2 separate regions of the Homo sapiens genome follow, and region 2 is linked to region 1. The links come from fine-mapping of genetic effects on gene expression. A gene starts in region 1. The other region holds a variant in brackets. All regions are shown on one strand. Distances are from middle to middle. Region 1 holds the start of TAS2R20 (taste 2 receptor member 20). Region 2 overlaps PRH1-TAS2R14 (PRH1-TAS2R14 readthrough).

Region 1 (5,393 bases):
TGACTTTTCTAATTGCGTATGGAAACTTATAACAGCACTGAAAAGAGCTCATGATCATGTTTCTTCATCCTTTTTATAGAAATGATTTTTTCTAAGCTATTAACATACTATATTAAATATAATATTCCTCAGTATTGCTTTTGATACACATAAAAATGTACACTAGATATATTTTTCACCCTTGAATTTTATTTTGTGCATTGTTATCTAACAATAATTGTATTTGCTTTATATTAAACATAAAATAAGAATTCATCATGAATGTCTATAATCCCAGCACTTTGGGAGGCTGAGGCAGTGGATCACTTGAGGTCAAGAGTTCGAGACCAGCCTGGCCAGCATGGTGAAACCCCATCTCTACTAAAAAAAAAAAGAAAAATACAAAAAATTAGCCACGTGTGGTAGCGCATGCCTGGAGTCCCAGCCACTCAGGAGGCTGACGCATGGAAATCACTTGAACCCCAGAGGTGAACGTTGTGGTGAGCCAAGATTGTGCTACTGCATTCCAGCCTGGACAACAGGGCAAGACTCCATCTCAAAAAAAAGAAAAAAAGAATTCATGATTAAAAAAAAAACAAAAAAACCTACCCCAAAGACACATTCTCATCGATTTAGAATTAAATGTCCTTACCATCCAAAAAATTAGAGGTTCAAACAATGATAGTTAAACAGTTAAACACACTATGGTACATATACGTGATACAAATTACAACGAAAAACAGCAATGATTTTACAACGAAAAACAGCAATGATTTTCTGATATAAGCTGTCAGTTCTTAATTATAAATAGAGATCATAAATTCCTCAAATGAAATATCATATAAAAAAATGTGTGAAATACACATGGGTTCATAATTCTGAGAAATTTCTTATCCTACTTTGGTATAACTGAACAGTTTATATGAAAAGTTGATTAAAGGTATGTTATGGTAAATATTAAATTTTCATATACATTCAGACATACACACACACGCAAATGTATATTATATATATATACTTTTATATAATAAACTTAGGTAAAAGACTTTTCTATGTCAACTTTTGGAAATTACTCAAATACATAGACTACGGAAAAACTTGTGGGAAATATAAAATGTTCCAGACACCATCAATTTGTTTTCTGCTAGAAAACACACAATGCACCTCTTGTGAATCTATGGAGTTGACTGGTTCTGTCCTTTTGCCCAGCAAGTCACCTGCCACAAAACTGAAAGAAAGGTCTGCTTTAGCGTCTTGTTCCCCCAAATCAGAATGAATGAGTGGAATGATGGATATATGATTCCAAAAGCTTGGCAAAGCATTAAGACAATTTCTTTTGGTCGCATCTTAAAATTCCAAAACGATATGATTAGACACAGAAAGTAAATGGCAAGTAATATGAGGAAGGAGGTCACAGTTTGCAGAGCTTTTATGTGGATCTTGGTGCTGGGATCTTGAGATCCTTTGCCATGGAGCTGCATCTTCTTCAGATGTTTACACAGAGAGTAGATTAACAGCAGAAAAGATATCAGGGTCAGAGTGAATGGTATCAAGTTTGCTAGCATGGCTACAGTCAAGTTGGAAAGGTGCATTGCATTCCTCAGTTTGATCTTCCAAGTTACGTTTCCTTCACATTCTTCTGTCCACACATTTATATACGTGTGTTTCATCACAAGGTGACAAACCAAAAAGAACAAAGACCCCAACACTATCACCAGAACTACACTCTTAGCCTTCCTTTTTAAGTGATGAAAAATAAGTCTGGAGAAATTGACGATCTTGAGCAAATAAAATATGCTGAGGCTAGTAGCAAGCCAGATGCTGAAATGATTGGTTACTGCCCAGGCATTAGAAATAAAAATTATTACTTTTAAATTAGATGAAGTTGGATTCAACACAGTTGAATACCAATGTAATAATATTACCCAGAGCAAACCAACTCTGGAGACTGCCAGAGCAGCAATAATTTGATCAGCTGAGGAGATCTTTTGTCTCTTGACCCAGGCAATGAAATTTATCAGTGCTATAAAGCCATTGGCAAAATTTCCAAGAATAAATGCAACCACTACTAGAATGGAAAAAACAATGTGTAGAAAACTCATCATGTCTAAACAAAAAAGCAAGTAAAAAATTCAGGCCTAATGTCACTGATGGTGACTCCTCTGATATTCAAGACTTTAAGTTAAATATGCACTTGATTCCTGAATGTCCAATAACATTCTTTATACTTTTAAATTCTGTGAACAATGTCAACAGAAAAGCACCAGCTTAAACTAATGAATGAGTTCAATGCTGCCTTTATGGGAAATACTGTTAGTCCCAAAACAACTCAAATTAATTCTTATTCATAAAGTCTCTATTCTTGCTATAGGCTGAAATTTTTCATACTGATGTTGAAGGGAAAGCTGAATTCTCATTTGCTAGCATTCAAATAAAGACATATCCTCTTTCATTGCTTTGCAATTTTTTCCTTGTTTCACCTTTCCATAATTTGTGTTCAGCCCTTCAGTTGTTGGGGAAATTTTAATACCCAGTACATAGATGACACAAAAAATATATTGTTAAAAGAGCCTGGTGAAATCTAGGATCAAAATCACTATGGATTTATTTTTAAAGCCAGATTTAAATACACAGAATCTAAACTTTTTATCAAAATCACCTAAGATTTTCTTGGAAACCACAGGAAAGCCAATACTCCTTATAATTTGGTTGCTGTTAACCAATACTTCTATATGGCATCACTATTAACAAGCTCATAAACACACACACAGACACACACACACTTTCACTCTTCAAGGATGGAAGGAATTGCTTTCTTGTAACTTATGACATGGAAAATGAGTTTCCAGGAGCTCGTCCTGGTGGAATTAGTCCTATTTTTCCCATGCCAGATTTTCAGCCAATGAATAATATTCATGAAACATATCTCTCATGCTTAGGCTTTTGGTAATGCTACCTGCAAGCTTGTAAACATTCCTGAGTACCAGACCTTTGTCACATAATTTTGCAGTGTCCTCCCACCACAGGCATAGTGACAACCTTGCACTAGGGCTCTGAGTTCGATCATGTAATTTGCTTTGATGAACAGAAAATTACTACACTTTACATCGAAATTTGAGATGACCTCCACATTAGGCTTTCTTGTTCCTTTCCGGTTTATAATGAGAACATGTCCACACTAACACACTGTTCCCAGAATAAGAATGAGTAACTCATGGAATCATATGGCTCCTGCCTGATCCAGCCTTAAATCGGCCAAACTCTAACTAGATCCAAGAGGCAAAACTTGGACCATCTCAAATCACCAGAGCCATCCACCAAACCCCAGCTTAAGAAAACAGAATCCAAAAACATGTGAGATATAAATATCTAATGTGGTTTTGGAGAAGTTTCTTTTGCAGAAAAAGCTAAGTGATATAGGTACTCTGCTAATCCAAGAGTTTGAGAAATATGTGCGCCCTTGTTGTGTCAGAAATTCAGGAGCCAAAGGAAAAATAGGTTGGAAATATCAAAGTTTTTGTAATATGAGGTGAATATCTAAAACTAGAAGAAAACTTTTGGAAAGATCTGGAGGCTGTAGGTAACAGCATCTCAAATTTCTCCATTTTGCAACTAAAATAAGAATTCACTTTAGCTCTCTTGAGTTGTATAAGAATGTACGTAAATGGTGGATTTTCCCCCTAGGTATATAATGAGCAGAGCAATTAATAATTTTTACGTGACATTTCTCCCAATTTGTAATTTTTTAAATAAAATTATAATGCACACTTAGAAATGGGCCAAAACAAAAATAGGTAAGAGCAATGTATCATAAACACTTATGTAACCATCATGCAGGATAAGACATGGAACACTGCAAACAGACTAGGTCCACTTCCAGGCCACTTTCCAAGCCCCTAAACCTTTATTCACATCTCCTGAGATAAGCAATATTCATAATCTATGATGATCATTTGCTTGAATTTCTTTATACTTTACCAGCTAGGTTCACAACCCTAAACTCCACAGCTTGGTCTGTCCTGCTTTGAACTGTGTATAGGTGCAGTCCTGTGTGTTCTTCTTGTTCATGGCTTCTTGCACTAGATATCATGTTTCTGAAATTTAGTTACATAGTTGCATGTACATGTGATTCATTTCTTTTCACCTCTATATACTGTTCCACTGTATGGATTTACTGTAATCTTTCATATCATTCAATCATCCTTAGTTAATATATATTTGGGCAGTCTATTTTTGAGCTATTATGAATAATACTACTATCAGCATTATTTCACATATCATTTGATGCAATTCCTATTATGGGGTCATTAAATGTGGTGTTCAAATTATCCTCACAGACATAGAAAAGTGCAAAAAATAATTTATCTAAATTTGTTCCTGTCACCTTTACCTCCAGTCTCTTTATCGCTATTTGCATATATCTTATCAATAATATATTTAACTCAGCAAGACGCTATTATTTTATTCAGTCAACATTCATTTAGAATTATGCACATATTTATCATTTCTGTTAATTTTTATTCCTTCTTGCATGCTTAACCTTGTATTTTCAATATTTTTTATCTGAAAAATATCATTTGGATTTCTGTTTATGAAGGTCCTCTATTCTTTTGAAACACACTAAAGACATGATTCCATTGAATTCTACTTTCCATTTTTCTGTTGAAAATCAGGTTGTCATTTAGAAAGTTGTTCCTTTTAAAATAATCTATCTTTTCCTCTGGCTACTTTTCAGATTTTCTACTGGTCTTTGATGTCTTGTGACATTTTATGTTAATTTGTTTTTAGTTATCTTGTCTGACCTTTGATGGTTACTAAAAATATATGGATTAATACATTTTATCACTTTTGGGAAAATCTCCACAACATTGATTCTGCCCTATTTTATCCCTTTTAATCTTCCAGAAATCCAGAAGTATGTTAGATGCTCTGATTGTAGCATCAATGCCTCTTATCCTCTTAGCTTGGCATTCTTTGTCTTGTGGTCTCTTTAGGCTTCTTTCTTTATAGTTGTCTTCCAATTCACTAATTCTCTCTTCTATGTCTAACTGGTTGTTAACTCTGTCTATTGGATTCTCAATATTGATTATTTATTTTTTGCTATTATTGTTTTAGTAGCAGAAATTATATTTTGTTCTCCTTCTATAAATCATTATCTATGGAGAAGCAGAACAAAGCACTCTTACCACCAAGTTTTTTAAAAAAAGTTGGGTTCTTTGTTCAGTTGGTTGGCTTTGTTTTTTTGTTTTTCGTATGCTTGACATGAAAATGCTAACAATTTTCTTCTTTTCCCAAGACTTTGGTCACAAAATAGAATAAAAGCTTGGTCTACACATCCTTCCGCAAGTTGGAAGAACCTGGAAATTGATGTGATGTTAGTAGCTTTTTTTTTTAGGGGGGGATAGCAGCTTGTC
Region 2 (5,393 bases), 150 kb after region 1:
GTTTTCTTTGAAACGGAGTCTCGCCCCATTGCCCAGGTTGGAATACAGTGGCGCAATCTCGGGTCACTGCAACCTCTGCCTCTCAGGTTCAAGTGATTCTCCCTGCCTCAGCCTCCTGAGTGTCTGGGATTACAGATACATAACACCATGCATGGCTAATTTTTGTATTTTTAGTAGAGATGGGATTTCACCATGTTGGCTAGGATGGTCTGAAACTCCTGACCTCAAATAATCTATCCTCCTTGGCCTCCCAAAGTGCTAGGATTACAGGTGTGAGCCACCATACCCAGTCTACATGTTCTAAAAAATGAAATTGTTCCTCACTGATACATAATCCCTCAATATTAGAATTTCTCAAATTAAATTCCTGAAAATGTTAGAATTAAAAGGTATTTTCTAAAACAGAAAAGGATTTCACAGAAAAGGAAATTTGGGAAACTCCACATAGAGCACTTCCTTTTACATACTAACAGAGTATACAGAAAGCTTATGATTTAAAAACAAACAAAAAGGTTAAAGTCGCTTAAGCCAGCATTGCCTAAAATATTTAAAAATTAAGAACTTTTTTTTTGTAACAACTATGAATATTCTGCTGAACTCTGAGAAATTCTGCTCTATATCTCTTTTAATGACAAATGTGTATTCTGCTATAATGAAGCATTATAATGTTTTTAAGCATAAAAAATGTTAAGGCTTTTATCTTAATGTTAACAAACTATACATAGCTCTATAACTGTTTTTGCATATCTGTAATCATTTTATGATTATTTTTAGAAACGTTTCAGAAATATGTAGTTATACATGCATATCAAAAAGTATGTGTACATAGATACATAGATATAAAGTGTATGTATTTTTATGCTAAATTCGCTTTGACTATATCCTACTATATGCTTCTACCAGTAGTGAAAGAGATTTTTCATGTTTCTGAGCTTTTTACTATCTGGATACCTTTTTAGTATTTTTATAATATATTTTACCAACAGATGTTCCTCATTCTGTGCGTCTTTACACATTTTTTTTCTTTCAGTCTTTTTCTAGTATTCATTCTGCTTTATTCTTCTAGGTAGTTTTTTTACTGAATCTAAAGTGTTTCCCAGGCCCTTAGCATAATAAACTACTCTAAATGAGAAAAAAAATGGCAATATTTGCCTTAACATCTTACATGTATACCTGAATTTGGCAAGAATTGATGTCATCACAACAATGAGAATGTCATCTAAGAACATGATTTTTTTATTAGGTAAAATGAGTATTTTTAATTTCATCCATATATTCCTAGTTTTAATACTCTTTCTGTATTCATTATCAAATGCCTAGATGTATAATTAGACTAGAGTCAGACAGCTAACTTAGCTGGATTAATTAACAGATCTTTCCAAGGAATTTAAAACTTATCAAACTTTTCCTTTATGTTTCGTGGTTTTTGTATCTTTCAGATAAAATCCTCACCTACCCTGAATTTATAAAATAATTTACATTTTTCTTAGCTTTAAATTTTGTTCTTAATGTTTAGATCTTAGTCCTTTTGGACTATTTTTTGTGATACAAGTTACACACTGATTTTCCTCCTTATGAAAAGTCCATTATCCAAACAATTTACTGCAAAAAACACATCTTATCTACTAATTTCTAATGATAATCTTATTATAAGACAAATTACATGTGCACAAAAAGTAAATTACCTAAATATATTCTGCCTTACTATTCCCTTTTGTTGTCTATTGCATCCTTCTGTGCCAAAATTCTTTCAATTTTCATAATTACACTATAATAAATCTTGATACCCAGTAAAGAACTTACCTCCTTCTTTTTCCAAGTTTTCTTGCCTATCTCCGAACTGTTAATTTTCTATATGTATTTTTCAAGTCATTTTTCACAATTTTCACAAAACTTTAATAAGACTTTGCCACAACTTGCATTGACTATATTAATCTAGAAAGAAATTATATTTTATAATACTCAGTTTATCTATGAACATGATACATCTCTTCATGTATTGTTTTTGAAACAATGTCTCACTCCAGTTGCCCAGGCTGGAGTGCAGTGGCACGATCTCGGCTCACTGCAGCATCAGCCTCCCAAGATCAGATCCTCCCACCTCAGCTTACTGAGTAGCTGTGACTACAGGTGTGTGCCACCACACACCGCTAATTTTTGTATTTTTAGTAGAGACAGGGTTTCACCAGGTTTCCCAGGCTGGTCTCGAGCCCCTGGACTCAAGGAATCCACCTGCCTGGGCCTCCCAACATGCTGGGATTACAGACATGAGCCATGACACCTGGCCAAAGAATTTTTTAAATTTACATATTGTAATTTACTGTTGGCAATAGATACACTGTTTTTTGGTAAATCGATGTTATATGAAGAACCTTGTTATCTTTTCTTATGCTAATAGTACCTGTTGATTCTTTAGGAGTGTTCATTTAAGCAGTGACATCATCACATCATTATACTGTAAATTTGTCTATCTCATTCCAGTTCCTAGATGAGTTTATATTGCTTGTCCTATTACATTAGCTAAAAGTGCTAGAACAATGTTGAGTTCTACAGATGTTAAAGAGCATTTCTGCCTTATTTAAGATATCAGTGAACTTTAAAGTAGTTTTCCAATTCTGTGAAGAAAGTCATTGTTAGCTTGATGGGGATGGCATTGAATCTATAAATTACCTTGGGCAGTATGGCCATTTTCA[C/T]GATATTGATTCTTCCTACCCATGAGCATGGAATGTTCTTCCATTTGTTTGTATCCTCTTTTATTTCATTGAGCAGTGGTTTGTAGTTCTCCTTGAAGAGGTCCTTCACATCCCTTGTAAGTTGGACTCCTAGGTATTTTATTCTCTTTGAAGCAATTGTGAATGGGAGTTCACTCATGATTTGGCTCTCTGTTTGTCTGTTATTGGTGTATAAGAATGCTTGTGATTTTTGTACATTGATTTTGTATCCTGAGACTTTGCTGAAGTTGCTTATCAGCTTAACGAGATTTTGGGCTGAGACAATGGGATTTTCTAGATATACAATCATGTCGTCTGCAAACAGGGACAATTTGACTTCCTCTTTTCCTAATTGAATACCCTTTATTTCCTTCTCCTGCCTCATTGCCCTGGTCACAACTTCCAACACTATGTTGAATAGGAGTGGTGAGAGAGGGCATCCCTGTCTTGTGCCAGTTTTCAAAGGGAATGCTTCCAGTTTTTGCCCATTCAGTATGATATTGGCTGTGGGTCTGTCATAGATAGCTCTTATTATTTTGAGATACGTCCCATCAATACCTAATTTATTGAGAGTTTTTAGCGTGAAGGTTGTTGAATTTTGTCAAAGGCCTTTTCTGCATCTATTGAGATAATCATGTGGTTTTTGTCTTTGGTTCTGTTTATATGCTGGATTACATTTATTGATTTGCATATATTGAACCAGCCTTGCATCCCAGGGATGAAGCCCACTTGATCATGGTGGATAAGCTTTTTGATGTGCTGCTGGATTCGGTTTGCCAGTATTTTATTGAGGATTTTTGCATCAATGTTCATCAAGGATATTAGTCTAAAATTCTCTTTTTGGTTGTGTCTCTGCCCAGCTTTGGTATCAGGATGATGCTGGCCTCATAAAATGAGTTAGGGAGGATTCCCTCTTTTTCTATTGATTGGAATAGTTTCAGAAGGAATGGTACCAGTTCCTCCTTGTACCTCTGGTAGAATTCGGCTGTGAATCCATCTGGTCCTGGACTCTTTTTGGTTGGTAAGCTATTGATTATTGCCACAATTTCAGATCCTGTTATTGGTCTATTCAGAGACTCAACTTCTTCCTGGTTTAGTCTTGGGAGAGTGTATGTGTCAAGGAATTTATCCATTTCTTCTAGATTTTCTAGTTTATTTGCGTAGAGGTGTTTGTAGTATTCTCTGATGGTAGTTTGTATTTCTGTGGGATCGGTGGTGATATCCCCTTTATTATTTTTTATTGTGTCTATTTGATTCTTCTCTCTTTTTTTCTTTATTAGTCTTGCTAGCAGTCTATCAATTTTGTTGATCCTTTCAAAAAACCAGCTCCTGGATTCATTAATTTTTTGAAAGGTTCTTTGTGTCTCTATTTCCTTCAGTTCTGCTCTGATTTTAGTTATTTCTTGCCTTCTGCTAGCTTTTGAATGTGTTTGCTCTTGCTTTCGCCAAGTCAATCCTAAGCCAAAAGAACAAAGCTGGAGGCATCACGCTACCTGACTTCAAACTATACTACAAGGCTACAGTAACCAAAACAGCATGGTACTGGTACCAAAACAGAGATATAGATCAATGGAACAGAACAGAGCCGTCAGAAATAACGCCGCATATCTACAACTATCTGATCTTTGACAAACCTGAGAAAAACAAGCAATGGGGAAAGGATTCCCTATTTAATAAATGGTGCTGGGAAAACTGGCTAGCCATATGTAGAAAGCTGAAACTGGATCCCTTCCTTACACCTTATACAAAAATTAATTCAAGATGGATTAAAGACTTAAACATTAGACCTAAAACCATAAAAACCCTAGAAGAAAACCTAGGCATTACCATTCAGGACATAGGCATGGGCAAGGACTTCATGTCTAAAACACCAAAAGCAATGGCAACAAAAGACAAAATTGACAAATGGGATCTCATTAAACTCAAGAGCTTCTGCACAGCAAAAGAAACTACCATCAGAGTGAACAGGCAACCTACAGAATGGGAGAAAATTTTCGCAACCTACTCATCTGACAAAGGGCTAATATCCAGAATCTACAATGAACTCAAACAAATTTACAAGAAAAAAACAGACAACCCCATCAAAAAGTGGGCAAAGGACATGAACAGACACTTCTCAAAAGAAGACATTTATGCAGCCAAAAAACACATGAAAAAATGCTCATCATCACTGGCCATCAGAGAAATGCAAATCAAAACCACAGTGAGATACCATCTCACACCAGTTAGAATGGCAATCACTAAAAAGTCAGGAAACAACAGGTGCTGGAGAGGATGTGGAGAAATAGGAACACTTTTACACTGTTGGTGGGACTGTAAACTAGTTCAACCATTGTGGAAGTCAGTGTGGCGATTCCTCAGGGATCTAGAGCTAGAAATACCATTTGACCCAGCCATCCCATTACTGGGTATAAACCCAAAGGACTATAAATCATGCTGCTATAAAGACACATGCACACGTATGTTTATTGCAGCACTATTCACAATAGCAAAGACTTGGAACCAATCCAAATGTCCAACAATGATAGACTGGATTAAGAAAATGTGGCACATATACACCATGGAATACTAAGCAGCCATAAAAAATGATGAGTTCATGTCCTCTGTAGGGACATGGATGAAATTGGAAATCATCATTCTCAGTAAACTATGGCAAGGACAAAAAACCAAACACTGCATGTT

What was found. PIP is the estimated chance that this variant, and not a neighbour inherited with it, causes the effect. A credible set is the group of variants that fine-mapping cannot tell apart.
Region 2: its variant is the best candidate, but not a certain one, in a credible set for the expression of TAS2R20 in whole blood (TOPMed, PIP 0.84).

Annotation. Positions count from the first base shown.
Region 1 is chr12:10,995,792-11,001,184 of GRCh38, forward strand. It overlaps TAS2R20 (taste 2 receptor member 20), which reads right to left and starts at 2,513. Exons shown (of 1, transcript NM_176889.4): 1 at 170-2,513. The coding sequence starts at 2,084. The coding sequence ends at 1,155. The region is part of intron 3 of PRH1-TAS2R14 (PRH1-TAS2R14 readthrough); the gene reads right to left. All of the region lies in intron 3 of PRH1-PRR4 (PRH1-PRR4 readthrough), which reads right to left. It also overlaps a transcript of PRH1 not described here.
Region 2 is chr12:11,145,201-11,150,593 of GRCh38, forward strand. The region is part of intron 1 of PRH1-TAS2R14 (PRH1-TAS2R14 readthrough); the gene reads right to left. The region is part of intron 1 of PRH1-PRR4 (PRH1-PRR4 readthrough); the gene reads right to left. It also overlaps a transcript of PRH1 not described here. Among named protein-coding and RNA genes, the nearest start is that of TAS2R30, 13 kb to the left of the region's middle. The variant C/T (reference allele first, on the strand shown) is at 2,694.